4 linked regions of the Homo sapiens genome follow. The protein of the gene in region 2 interacts with the protein of the main gene of each other region in a pairwise test. Each region holds a gene or a part of one and is shown on either strand. Other genes may lie near its edges.

Region 1 (3,500 bases), on a different chromosome or scaffold from region 2:
GGTCTATGTCTATGAAGGAAAACCAAACTTCTGGTCCACTTTGGGTTCAAAGCATGGTCTCATCGGTACTATCCTGTGATCAATTTGAGCAATTAGTGAAGCCAGAGCCAGGAGATAACCTTACCAGGCTCTATTGTAAGCTCTATGAAAACAGGGATCGTATCTGTCTTGTTCATTGTTATATCCCAGCAACCAGTACAGTGCCTGGAGCACAGTAGGTCATTAATGTATACTTACTGAATGAATTTATGTTATTCCACATTATCAAGAGCCTATATATCTCCTACTTCTCCTCCCCTTTTCCTTACTCTAAGTCCCATTCCCTGAAGGTATCTACTCTTACATATTTAATGTTTTGAATAATGAATTTACAAGGAAAAGGACTTTCATATGCTTGGGATGAAAGAATGGTGGTCAAAATGGGAAAACTGACTGAAGTCTTGAAACAAAGGACACTGCCCCAGAAGTCAATAGTAATTAATAATAAAAAGATGGTTTGGAAAAAGACAAATCAAGATCCCCATATCTTCTCTGACCCAACTTCTAGGGGGACAGTTCCCCTGGACAGATGTACTAGTTTGTTGATGTCAGGCATCACCTATGAAAAGAGACCACTCTCCCTGTAAGCTTTATCCATGCTTTGTGTCCCCTACATGGTGGGAGGGTTGTCCCAGGTCCTTCTGTGATCCCAGCCTGAGAGCCAAGCCATTTCTGAATGGAGGAGGGAGCAGCAGGTGCAGAAAATAAAACTGGAGAGATGCAGGAGAGTCTGCAGCCCCCTGGATCCCTTCCATGTGCCTCTCACCTCGGGGCCTTCTTCTCCAGACTAGAACACCAACTCCAGCCAGCACAATGACAAGGACAATGGACCCAGAGACAGCTTTCATCACAAGAGGGATAGTTTCTGATTCTGAAAGCAAGCAAATGAGAAAAAATCCACAAGTCCCCTTTCCCTTCTGTGTTAACTTTCTGGGACTTTTGTCCCTGTGATCATCAGGAAACCCAACACCATTTTCCTTACTGTTGCTTCTCACTCATCAATCTGACCACTAATGGAATATCTGCTTGTGTTTTCTTGTGTTTAATTTTTTTTTTTTTTTTGAGACAGCGTCTCACTCTGTCGTCCAGGTGGAAGTGCAGTGGTGCCATTATAGCTCACTGCAGCCTCAACCTCCTGGGCTCAAGCGATCCTCCCACCTTAGCCTCCTCAGTAGCTGGGACTACAGGCGCATGCCATCATGCCCAGCTAATTGTTGTGTTTTTTGTAGAGATGAGATCTCAGTATGTTGCCCAGGCTGGTCTTGAACTCCTGGGCTCAAGCAGTTCACTCGCGTCAGCCTCCCAAAGTACTGGCATTACAGGAGTGAGCCACTGCGCCTGGGTTGTGTTTTTTTGTTTTTTGTTTTTTTGTTTTTTTGAGAGGGAGTCTTGCTCCCTTCGCACAGGCTGGAGTGTAGTGGTGCGATCTCGGCTCACTGCAACCTCCACCTCCCAGGTTCAAGCGATTCTCCTGCCTCAGCCTCCAGGAGCTGGGATTACAGGCATGCGCCACCATGCCTGGCTAATTTTTGTATTTTTAGTAGAGATGGGGTTTCACCATGTTGGCCAGGCTGGTCTCGAACTCCTGACCTCAAGTGATCCACCTGCCTCAGCCTCCCAAAGTGCTGGGATTACAGGCATGAGCCACTGCACCCATTCGTGTTTAATTTTTAAATTTTTAATTTGTAATGTAGTAAATAGCAATAGATATAACCCACATCAGCAAAAGCTCTCTGGGGTCCTCAATAATTTTTTAATAGTATGAAGGCGTCCTGGTTCCAAAAAGTGTGAGAACCACTTATTTAAAAGACCCATTCTAAGGCACACTGAGTGAGGCAGTGATCTATCCTCCCCTCCCTGGCAGCGAGCATGGTTTCCTGCTCACCCCTTTCTCCAGGCTCTCTCCCTAGACAGCCACGATCCCCGTCCTTACCCTGGGGGACCTGAAGAACCATGTGGACACCGCAGTGCTCCACATGACAGGAGTAAAGGTTGCTGCTCTGAGGATCAAGCTCAATTGATGCCCACGCCTGATAGGTTCCATCCCCACTGGGAAGAATGTCTCCATAATCAATTTCTTGGACAATTTCTTCCCCGTTTTTCATCCATGTCATGTAAATTTCTGGGGGGTAAAAGCCATGAGCTTTGCAGAAGAGAGCTGTAACCCCTGGAAAAGTTTCTTTGCGATTTACTCTGACCAGTGGGGGCTCTAGGAAGAAGAAGCTAAAGTTAAATCAAAGTGCCTTATGTACTGAGCATATAATATTAGAACTTGGCAACTGGCTTTCCTAATTTTTCTTTATTGCAGGAAACTTCTAAAGCTAAGAATGACCCAGAACTCAGGTTCATCAACAACAAACGTATTTACGTATACCTTCCATGATGGCAAGGTGCTAGGTAGTGAAGAATGTGGAGTTGGCCCATGCTCCATCCTCTAAGGGGGGAAAGTCATACAGCTTTGACTGTTTGGAAAGTGTGCTGGGGTTGTTTACTAGTAACCTTTGAAATACCTTTATGTGTCAAGGAAAACTGACCCATAAAATGTGTAAGTGACTGTTCCCAATAAGTAAGTCAGCAATAGATTGGAGATTAGAACTCCTTGTTCTCATTTCTGTGTTTAGTGCACGTAAATAACACAGCCATCCCCACTCAGTTTTGGCTCCGAATTGCCTTGTGTACTTGCGCTGGCATTTTGATGACTGCCATCAGGTACAAACATATGTAGTAGATCATGCCATGGTTGTGCCTTCGAAGAAACTGATATCATAGAAGGGCTCCAGCAGTGACACCAAAGAAGTACCCACGTGTGACCTTGCTTCCTCATGACTACTCTTAATTTTCCATACAGTCCTGTCCTTAATGTTTCTTGCTGAAATTGGGTCAAACAGCCATACCGAGACCAAAGGCACTATCTGGGGGGGACTGCTTCCTGCTCATCTCTGACTTGCCTCCTGACCCCCACCTTATCATCGGCCAACCCAATACGGAGAAGAGCCTTCACTCCAACAATGCTTTCCTTGTCTCTTTACCGAGGCATGATATTTGGTAGTAGAAAAAGGCTTTCCAACATTAAAAGTAAAATAAATGCTACTAGGAGGGACTGTGCTTTTTGATAGGGCCTGTAAGAAATTAATCCAAGATCCTTTTCTAGGAATGTGTTTTTTCTTTTCTTTTTTTTTTTTGTTTGTTTTTTTAGGAGTGTGTTTTGACCAAAAGGTTGAAAATCCATTAGGACACTGAATGTAGACAGAGGCCTGGAGAGGGGAGCTTCCCATACTCTTCCCACACACATTGTATCTAGGAGTTTCCTGTAGCATCATACAGGTGTGATTAATTTTGAATAACAAGACCATACATGAAAAGTTCTATATGAACTAAAAGTTGACCAACTGAATCATATCTTTAAGGTATAAGAGGAGCTCTTTGCTGAAAGGAATCTTATCATTAATACTTTTTTTTTT
Region 2 (3,500 bases):
CAAGTATGGTTAATAGGTAATTTCTTCTTAAGTAGGAATGGGGTCTGGAATTTAACAGAGCCCAAACAAGCATTTTAATTTTAGCTAGCTACAGAGCCTTCCTCAGATTTGCAAAGAGAGGGAAAAATGAACATTGAATACCTACCAGGTGCTAGGCACTGGGCATTATCTTGTGTGACTCTTAAACCTGTGAGGTAGGTATCATTAGCTTGCTCTTTCAACCAGGAAATAGTGGAGTAAAGTGACAGAGCTCAAATTTACTTCCAAATCTTTCTTGCTCTCAAATCCACGCCAAACTCTTTGGCACCCTGCTTCAAATGTGTAAACCCAGAAATGTTACTGCCTGAGTTACGTTAGTGCTTATTTACTTTGATTACTCTTTAAGTTTTCTGATATGGAAAGTTTCAAATATATTCAAAAGCAGAATTGTTTAATGAACCCCAGTGTACTTATCTCCCAGCTTCAGCAGTCTGATCTTGTTTCTTTCCTACCACTACCCTCCCAACTTCTTGATTATTTTGAAGCAGATCTTAGCTATATCAGTTCCTCTCTAAAAGTATTTCACTCTGTGTTGCTGGCAGATAAGGGCCCTTTTTGATACCACCAATTGCCTCACCTAAAAAAACCTAACAGTAATTCCTTGGTATCATCAAATATCCAATCAATTCCTTTAATTGTCTCTTACAATGCTTTAAAAAAGCAAGACAGTTAAGTCATCTTTATAGTTACTTTTAATTAACATACAAAATTTCTGAATCAAGAAGAGGTTCAGAGATTCAACTGAGTGTGTGTTCTGGGACCTAGGATACTACTTAGGTCATTAGTCTCCTTTCCTGTGACTTACTAGATTAGGTATCTTCTTTTTAGTTTTCCATCACATAATCCCCTTGGAGAAGCCTTAAAGGAATGTTACACCATCCAAAGTGACCTCTCTGTGCAGCTTTTATGATTTTGGCAGGAAAACAAGCAAGAAAGGAGTGGGTGCAGTGGGAGATGATGCAGGAAGCTGTGAGCACCAGAAGTGAGACTATTACAGAGGATGTGGAATACGGGTAAAGAATAGAACAGATTGCCTTGGTTTGCTGAGAATACCAGTTTCCAGTATGACTTTAGGTCCCCTCAGGTTACTTCATTTAGCAGACACTAATTGAGTGACTCTGGTGGGTCAGGCATGGTAGTAGGCATTGAGAGTAAGTCAGTGAGCAAACCAGACAAAGATCCCTTCATGGAACTTACTGCTGGTGGGTGTGATTGTCACCTGATGATGACAGAGCTATGCTTCTGGTCATGCAGCTATTGTGATGCTTCTCTGAGGAGAAAGCTCCATTCCTAGTCCTAATGGGTCATATTGTAAACATTTTAAAATCTGAGCAGCAAATTTGTTTTTCTGATTTGAAGGTGCCAGTGATGATGCAGTTAGCTGCTCAGTGATGCTGGAAGTCCTTCGCGTCTTGTCAACATCTTCAGAAGCCTTGCATCATGCTGTCATATTTCTCTTTAATGGTGCTGAGGAAAATGTCTTGCAAGTGAGATTTTACTGTTTTAAATATCAGGCTTGAATAAGGATGAGATTAATAATAATAGCTAAATATTATTTACTAAATAGTAAATGCATTTTTTATGACTCCTGTGGGTAGTATAAAATAATATGCAGAAAAATACTTTATGAGCAGTACTTTAACAAATTCACAACCACTTATGTAGAGATGTTTAATATTTGGAAAACTCCACTTAGCAGATTATTGTGGCAGGATTTGATTGAGAGAAGGGCTCTCGCTGGCATAATTACTCTCCTCAGGTTTTCTTTGACATTGAAGTTTCAGAGATGTTTTGAGACAGGCACAAATAAATGCCCAGCCATATGGATCGTCTCTTCTCCTGTTCTCTTTTTTTTCTTTCTTTTTAAAAAGAGAAGGGGGCCAGGCACGCTGGCTCATGCCTATAATCCCAGCACTTTGGGAGGCCGAGGCAGGCAGATCACGAGGTCAGGAGTTTGAGACCAGCCTGGCCAACATGGTGAAACCCCGTCTCTACTAAAATTACAAAAATTAGCCAGGCGTGGTGGTGGGTGCCTGTAATCCCAGCTATTCGGGAGGTTGAGGCAGGAGAATCGTTTGAACCTGGAACGTGGAGATTGCGGTGATCCGAGATCGAGCCATTGCACTCCAGCCTGGGCCACAGGCTCTGTTTCAAAAATGAGCAAACAAAAAAAGAGGGAGTCTCGCTATGTTGCCCAGGCTGGTCTCGAACTCCTGAGCTCGGGTGATCTTCCCACCATGGCCTCCCAAAGTTTTGGGATTACAGGTGTGAGCCACCGTGCCTGGCCCTCTTTGCCTTTTCTTTTGCACAGCCTTGTACTTACCAGGGATGTTGTTTGGCACCGCTGATGGTCACCAGGCTGCCTTCTGTGATAGGTGACTTTCCGAACCTGATGTGCATGGCCATTATGCATAGGAAAAGAAGCAGAAGATGTCTTTGGATACTGCCTTTGAAGAGCGATTATTTTGTTTTCATATTCCTTACCTCATCAAAGTAGTCTCTCTGTGTTTAAGCAAAATCAAGACTGATAATTTAAGATTGTTTAACAAATATTTGTTTTCTTTCCTTCTCTTTAAGGCCAGTCATGGTTTCATTACTCAGCACCCCTGGGCTAGCTTGATTCGTGCATTCATTAACCTAGAGGCAGCAGGTGTAGGAGGGAAAGAACTTGTATTCCAAACAGGTATGTGAGATTGTGCGTTGTATATTTTAATGCAATTCTAGTTTTTGTAAAAGTAGAAAGTTTTTGATTATAAATAATATCTTCAATAAACAGTCTCTTGAATGAGCATTCTTTTTAAAGCATGAGGTGGTGTTAGCTTGTCTTTGTTAAAAATTTTGAACCAAATAATGCAGCATCTAACACTTGTATAGTGCTTATTATATGCCAAGTGTTGTTCAAACCATTTCATATATATTAAGTCATTGAATCCTCCAAACAACATGTAAGATAAGTACTGTTACTTCCATTTTAGAGATGAAACTGAGTCCAGAGAGATTATAACTTGCCTAAGGTTTCACAGTTGTTTAATGGCAGAGTGTGATTTGAACCTAGACAGTCCGGGTCCAGAAACTTTGTTCTTAACCTCTAATTGGATTGTTATATAGGTAGTGAACTTTTAGCCACTGTGGGTGGTTATGATATAAATATTGTTAAATGTCAATCATTTCATGAGTTAAAATGAGAAAATTTACCTGTAGTGTATGTAACAGGTTTAAATTTATCATTGATTTAGTGGAATGTTAAAAAAATTTAGTAATATTTAATCAGCCAGAATAATTTTTATTTTATTGTTTTTTTAGAGACAGAGCCATGCTCTGTCACCCAGGCTCGAGTGCACTGGTGCCATCATGCAGCCTTGACCTCCTGGGTTCAAGTGGTTCTCCTGTCTCAGTTTCCTGAGTTGCTGGGACTGCAGGTGCTTGCTATCACGCCTGGCTATTTAAAAATTTTTTTGTAG
Region 3 (3,500 bases), on a different chromosome or scaffold from region 2:
TCTGACTGCATCATATCCCTTATCCCACTTAATACTCTTTAATGGTTTTCCTTTGCTCTAAAATTAGAGGAAAAGTTCTTAGCACGGTTTATAAGCCATCGCCACCCCCCATTCCCATATCAATTGCTATCAATTCCAGGCCCTACACACCACAGGGCCTTTGCAAGTGCCATTTGCTGTCTCTGGAAAACACACACATCTCTCCTCTTTTGCCTCTCTCTCTACCTCCTACTCAAACCTCAGCTCTCATCTCAGATGTCACTTTCTTACATAGACCAGTCTGTCTAGGTCAGGGTTTTGTTGTTGTTGTTCTAGTCTCTCAATTCCCTTTCTTTCTACACGCTTAACTCACTTTGTAATGAAAAGATTATTACTTGATCAGTTTGGGTGTGCCTTCCCCAGAAGTCTCTAAGCTCTATGGAAGCTGAGCTGTCTACTTTCACATATCATTGTATCCCCAACACATAGCACAATGCTCAGCTCAGAACAGGCACTCAAATCTGTGAAAAGGAGGAGAGAGGAAAGAAACTTTCTTTTTTTTTTTTTTTTTTTGTCTGAGACAGAGTCTTGCTCTGTTGCCCAGGCTGGAGTGCAGTGGTGCAATCTCGGCTCACTGCAAGCTCCGCCTCCCGGGTTCACGCCATTCTCCTGCCTCAGCCTCCCAAGTAGCTGGGACTACAGGTGCCCGCCACCACACCTGGATAATTATTTGTATTTTTAGTAGAGATGGGGTTTCACTGTGTTAGTCAGTATGGTCTCCATCTCCTGACCTCATGATCCACCCACCTCGGCCTCCCAAAGTGCTGGGATTACAGGCATGAGCTACCATGCCTGGCCTCTCTCTCTCTTTTTTTTTTTTTTTTTTTGAGATAGATGGAGTCTCACTCTGTTGCCCAGACTGGAGTGCAATGGCGCAATCTTGGCTCACTGCAACCTCTGCCTCCTGGGTTCAAGCGATTCTCCTGCCTCAGCCTCCTGAGTAGCTGGGATTACAGGCACCCACCACCATGCCCAGCTAATTTTTGTATATTTAGTAGAGGCGGGGTTTCACCATGTCGGTCAGGCTGGTCTTGAACTCCTGACCTCAGGTGATCCACCTCCCTCGGCCTCCCGAAGTGCTGGGATTACAGGCGTGAGCCACCGCGCCCGGCCAAAAAAATTTTTTCAAGTGGTCCAGGGTCACACTCATTAGTGTGATAAATGTTTAACAACCGGCTCTATGAAGAAAAAAAACCCTGATCTCCACTGTTTGCCAATTCCTATGGTGTAAATGCTCCCACCATGGTGAATTTCAAGCTGCCAGCATGACATTACTGAATGTGAAGTTGGATAGACACGTGCAGCAGGCTCAGAGTCAATAGAAGCCAAGCTGGCTCCCACACACCACCAGTTTGTGGCAACCTCAGGACAAAGATTCAGAAAGTCCACCATGTTTTTTTGTTTTTTGTTTTTTGTTTTTTGAGACGGAGCCTGGCTCTGTCCCCCAGACAGTTAGTGCAGTGTTGTGATCTCCGCTCACTGCAAGCTCCGCCTCCCGAGTTCACGCCATTCTCCTGCCTCAGCCTCCCGAGTAGCTGGGACTACAGGCGCCCGCCACCACGCCCTCCTAATTTTTTTGTATGTTTAGTAGAGACGGGGTTTCACCACGTTGGCCAGGATGGTCTTGAACTCCTGACCTCGTGATCCGCCCACCTCGGCCTCCCAAAGTGCTGGGATTACAGGCGTGAGCAACCGCGCCCAGCCCCCACCATGTTTTTAAATGACACCAACTTTCGACTCAATCCTATCTTGGACTAAAGGCCAAAGTAAAGGCACCTGCAGAAAATGTTGCTACAGAGAGGCAGAGGGAGACGGAGAGGGAGAGGGAGAGATCTGCAGATGGTTCAGAACAGGAAGATGAAGAAGGAAAGGGAGACCTGTGACCTGGGAAGACAGCTATCTCCCAAACGGAGGTGGAAAGGCTGCTTAACAGCTGGCTAGCCTCTAATCCTTACATTAATAAGGGCCACTGCCAAACTAAATGTTTAGGACGTTGTTACAAGCAAGTCAACGTCTGCATGAAATGCTGGTTATATCCTCTGACCTTTCTAGCAATTTATCCTAATAGCTCAGAAAAGCAAAACAGGTATCTCCAACCCCAAAATAAAGAAGTTATAAGATCATAAAAATGTTAGAAGAAAACATAGGATTTCCCCCCAGTCTTCCAGGAATCTTCCAAGCCTTAAAGCTAACATAAGAAATCATAAAAAAGAAGATTAATTCATACAACTCTAACCAAACCATACGTTTCTACATAACAAAAATATCATGTACAAAATTTAAAAAACCAAACAGCAAACTCGAGGAAAATGGTTACAAGTCATCCAGAAGGGTTAATTTACATCATACATAAAGTGTACCTATAAATACATAAGAAAATAATGCTTCTCACAGCATATACACACACATAAAGGCAAAGGAAATGAAGAGACTGTTCAAAGAACAGGAAATATGGATGGCTCAAAAACTTTCAAAAAGATGTTTAACTTCCTTCATAACAAGAGAAATGCAAGTCACAACCACCACCAAATACAATTTTTTGCACATCAAACTAGAAAATATGTAAAGATTTGATAATCCCCTGGGTCAGGGAGGGTGTAGGGAACAGAACCACACATATTATTAGTATAATTGTGCATAGCTAAGATTTCTACAGAAAACACTCTGACAGTATTAACATAAAAATGCAGCCTACTTTCACCCTCCCACTTCTAAAAATTTCTTACACGTGTGCAAATGTCTGTGCATGCCAAGATTTCGTGATATATTGTGAATATAACAGCAAAGACTGGAGACAAACTTAATGCTTCCTCGGTAAGTGATTAGTTAAATAAATGGCAGTCCAGTCTGACAATGGAATACTATGCAGACATAAAAAAGAATGAGTATCTCTATGTACTGATGTATTCATCTCCAGCATAAGTGAAAAAACAGTGTTTCGGATACGCTAGTGTTTCTGAGACAAAATATGTAAATGAAAGTAGAACATTTCTGGAAGGGGATGTGAGAAACTGGTAACCATGGTTGCTTCTGAAGAGGGAAACTGGGGGCAGAGACAGAAAGAAATGTTACTTTTATGCTATGCTTTCTGTACAATGTACATGTATTACCTACTATAGTCAATTTTTAAAAATAGATATGCATGAAGATATCCACTGTTGTTGCATATACTAGACAAAAGCCACCACTGGGATGACCTCATGGTAGTCAGTTCAGTATTTTATTATTTTTTTTTGAGACGGAGTCTCGCTCTGTTGCTCAGGCTGGAGTGCAGTGGAGTGATCTCGGCTCACCGCAACCTCCGCCTCCCAGGTTCAAGCGATTCTCCTACCTCAGCCTCCCGAGTAGCTGGGAATACAGACGTAAACCACCATGCCCGGCTAATTTTTGTATTTTTAGTAGAGATGGGGTTTCACTATGTTGGCCAGGCTGGTCTGGAACTCCTGACCTCGTGATCCGCC
Region 4 (2,425 bases), on a different chromosome or scaffold from region 2:
GAAATATAGCACAAAAATAGTTTGATTTAGTCACAGTATCTGGAGGAATGAATGCACAGTATCAGGAGACTTATTTAAATCCTTACTGTGTTTATTCAGTCAATTGGGGTAACTATTATAATGCAAGAATTAAAACTTCTTTATTAACATGAGAAGAATAAAAGTACTAAGTATAAACATTGACGGGTTCATTTATATCAAAATTATAAACATTTATGAAAGTTTTTGGCACTGCAAATAGTGGTTTTCAAATTTAATATATTGTTTTTGTAATGTTTTCATAATTATTATTTAAGTGAAAATTCTTTCTTTTCTTTTAGAAATTTCTGTCCATCATTTCACCATCCTCATGGATTGGTGTGTTTCGTAACAGCAGTCATCATCCATGGGTGACAATGAATGGTTTGGCTTTCAAACATGAGTAAGTTGTTTTGTATGGCGCTATATAACAATATATATATAAAGGATAAATTCAGAAGAATAATATGAATAAATCTATGTGGAATCATAGAGATGAAGAAAGATGTGGAAAGTTAGTGAAATGCTGACATAAATATTTTACAATAGACCATAGTAGTCCATATATTTCAACCGCTCATTGGTCAGCTAGTAACCTTCTTGATTATCAGGTGTCCAATCTTTGGCTTCTGTGGGCCACATTGGAAGAAGAAGAGTCTTGGGCCACACATAAAATACACTAACACTAACGATAGCTGACGAGCAAAAAAAAGAAAAAAAAAATCACAGAATGTTTTAAGAAAGTTTACGTATATGTATTGGGCCGCATTTGAAGCTGTCCTGGGTCACATGCGGCCCGTGGGCAGCGAGTTGGACAAGCTCGAGCTGGACTATCAGGGAATTGCAGTGCTTGTTTTTATTAAAAAGCCACACTTACTTTTTTTCTTAAGAATATCCTCAAAGCACAAGAGTAGTGCTGTTGGCATATTGCTATAATTTTGTTATTAGTAGTTATTGTTGTCAATCTCTTATTGTGCCTAATTTATAAATTAAATTTTATCACAGTTATGAATGTGTAGAGAAAACATAATCTCTCTATAGGTTCTGCACTATCTGCCGTTTCAGGCATCCACTGGAATCTTGAAACATATCCCTCGTGGATGAAGGGGGACTACTCTGTTGAGTGTTCAGAATAATGACTCTTACTAATATTATGAAAAATTTAATTACCCTTTTCCATGAAATTATTTTCTTACAGTACATGGAAAATGCTTTCGTCTCATGAATCATTTGCTTAAAATGTAACAGAATATGGATTTTTCTCCATTACAGGATAAAAGACTCAGATAATGCTGAACTTAACTGTGCAGTGCTACAAGTAAATCGACTTAAATCAGCCCAGTGTGGATCTTCAATAATATATCATTGTAAGCATAAGCTTTAGAGGTAAAGCGTTTGCATTTGCAGTGCATCAGATAAATTGTATATTTCTTAAAATAGAAATATATTATGATTGCATAAATCTTAAAATGAATTATGTTATTTGCTCTAATAAGAAAATTCTAAATCAATTATTGAAACAGGATACACACAATTACTAAAGTACAGACATCCTAGCATTTGTGTCGGGCTCATTTTGCTCAACATGGTATTTGTGGTTTTCAGCCTTTCTAAAAGTTGCATGTTATGTGAGTCAGCTTATAGGAAGTACCAAGAACAGTCAAACCCATGGAGACAGAAAGTAGAATAGTGGTTGCCAATGTCTGAGGGAGGTTGAAATAGGAGATGACCTCTAACTGATAGAACGTTACTTTGTGTCGTGATGAAAACTTTCTAAATTTCAGTAGTGGTGATGGTTGTAACTCTGCGAATATACTAAACATCATTGATTTTTAATCATTTTAAGTGCATGAAATGTATGCTTTGTACACGACACTTCAATAAAGCTATCCAGAAAAAAAAAAAAAGCCTCTCCTGGGATTATTTGTGACTGCATTTATTCTCTAAAGTAATTTTTAAAGATTAGCTTCTTTATAATATTGACTTTTCTAATCAATATAAAGTGTTTCCTTCAATGTACTGTGTTATCTTTAATTTCTCTCTATTGTATTTTGTATTTTGGGGGATTGAAGTCATACAGAAATGTAGGTATTTTACATTTATGCTTTTGTAAATGGCATCCTGATTCTAAAATTCCCTTTAGTAATTTTTGTTGTTATAAATAGAAATACAACTGATGTCTGCATTTTGATTTTATATCTACTTATTCCACTGATTTTATATATGTAAATCTATTATGTCAACTATTGATTTATTTCTGGGTGTTCTATATAACGAGCAATTTTATCTGCACATGATCACACTTTTATTTTTTTAATCTATATGCTATAACGTAGTTTTATTTTCATTTATTTTCACTGGCTAGGGTTTTATACCCATAGTTGAATAGAAGGTACAATCAAAGTTC

The links.
Region 1: the proteins of ERMP1 (region 2) and MR1 interact in binary tests that used the Homo sapiens proteins (3 or more experiments, as listed by UniProt).
Region 3: the proteins of ERMP1 (region 2) and SLC22A23 interact in binary tests that used the Homo sapiens proteins (3 or more experiments, as listed by UniProt).
Region 4: the proteins of ERMP1 (region 2) and KLRC1 interact in binary tests that used the Homo sapiens proteins (3 or more experiments, as listed by UniProt).

Annotation. Positions count from the first base shown.
Region 1 is NC_000001.11:181,050,983-181,054,482, reverse strand, and holds part of MR1 (major histocompatibility complex class I-related protein 1 isoform 1 precursor), read right to left. Parts: intron 2,249-3,500; coding exon 1,973-2,248; intron 911-1,972; coding exon 806-910; intron 1-805. UniProt on the Homo sapiens protein: Antigen-presenting molecule specialized in displaying microbial pyrimidine-based metabolites to alpha-beta T cell receptors (TCR) on innate-type mucosal-associated invariant T (MAIT) cells.
Region 2 is NC_000009.12:5,823,118-5,826,617, reverse strand, and holds part of ERMP1 (endoplasmic reticulum metallopeptidase 1), read left to right. Parts: intron 1-1,398; coding exon 1,399-1,526; intron 1,527-2,616; coding exon 2,617-2,722; intron 2,723-3,500. UniProt on the Homo sapiens protein: Within the ovary, required for the organization of somatic cells and oocytes into discrete follicular structures.
Region 3 is NC_000006.12:3,447,051-3,450,550, forward strand, and holds part of SLC22A23 (solute carrier family 22 member 23), read right to left. Parts: intron 1-3,500.
Region 4 is NC_000012.12:10,445,528-10,447,952, reverse strand, and holds the end of KLRC1 (NKG2-A/NKG2-B type II integral membrane protein), read left to right. Parts: intron 1-320; coding exon 321-421; intron 422-1,290; coding exon 1,291-1,402; 3' UTR 1,403-1,925; downstream 1,926-2,425. UniProt on the Homo sapiens protein: Immune inhibitory receptor involved in self-nonself discrimination.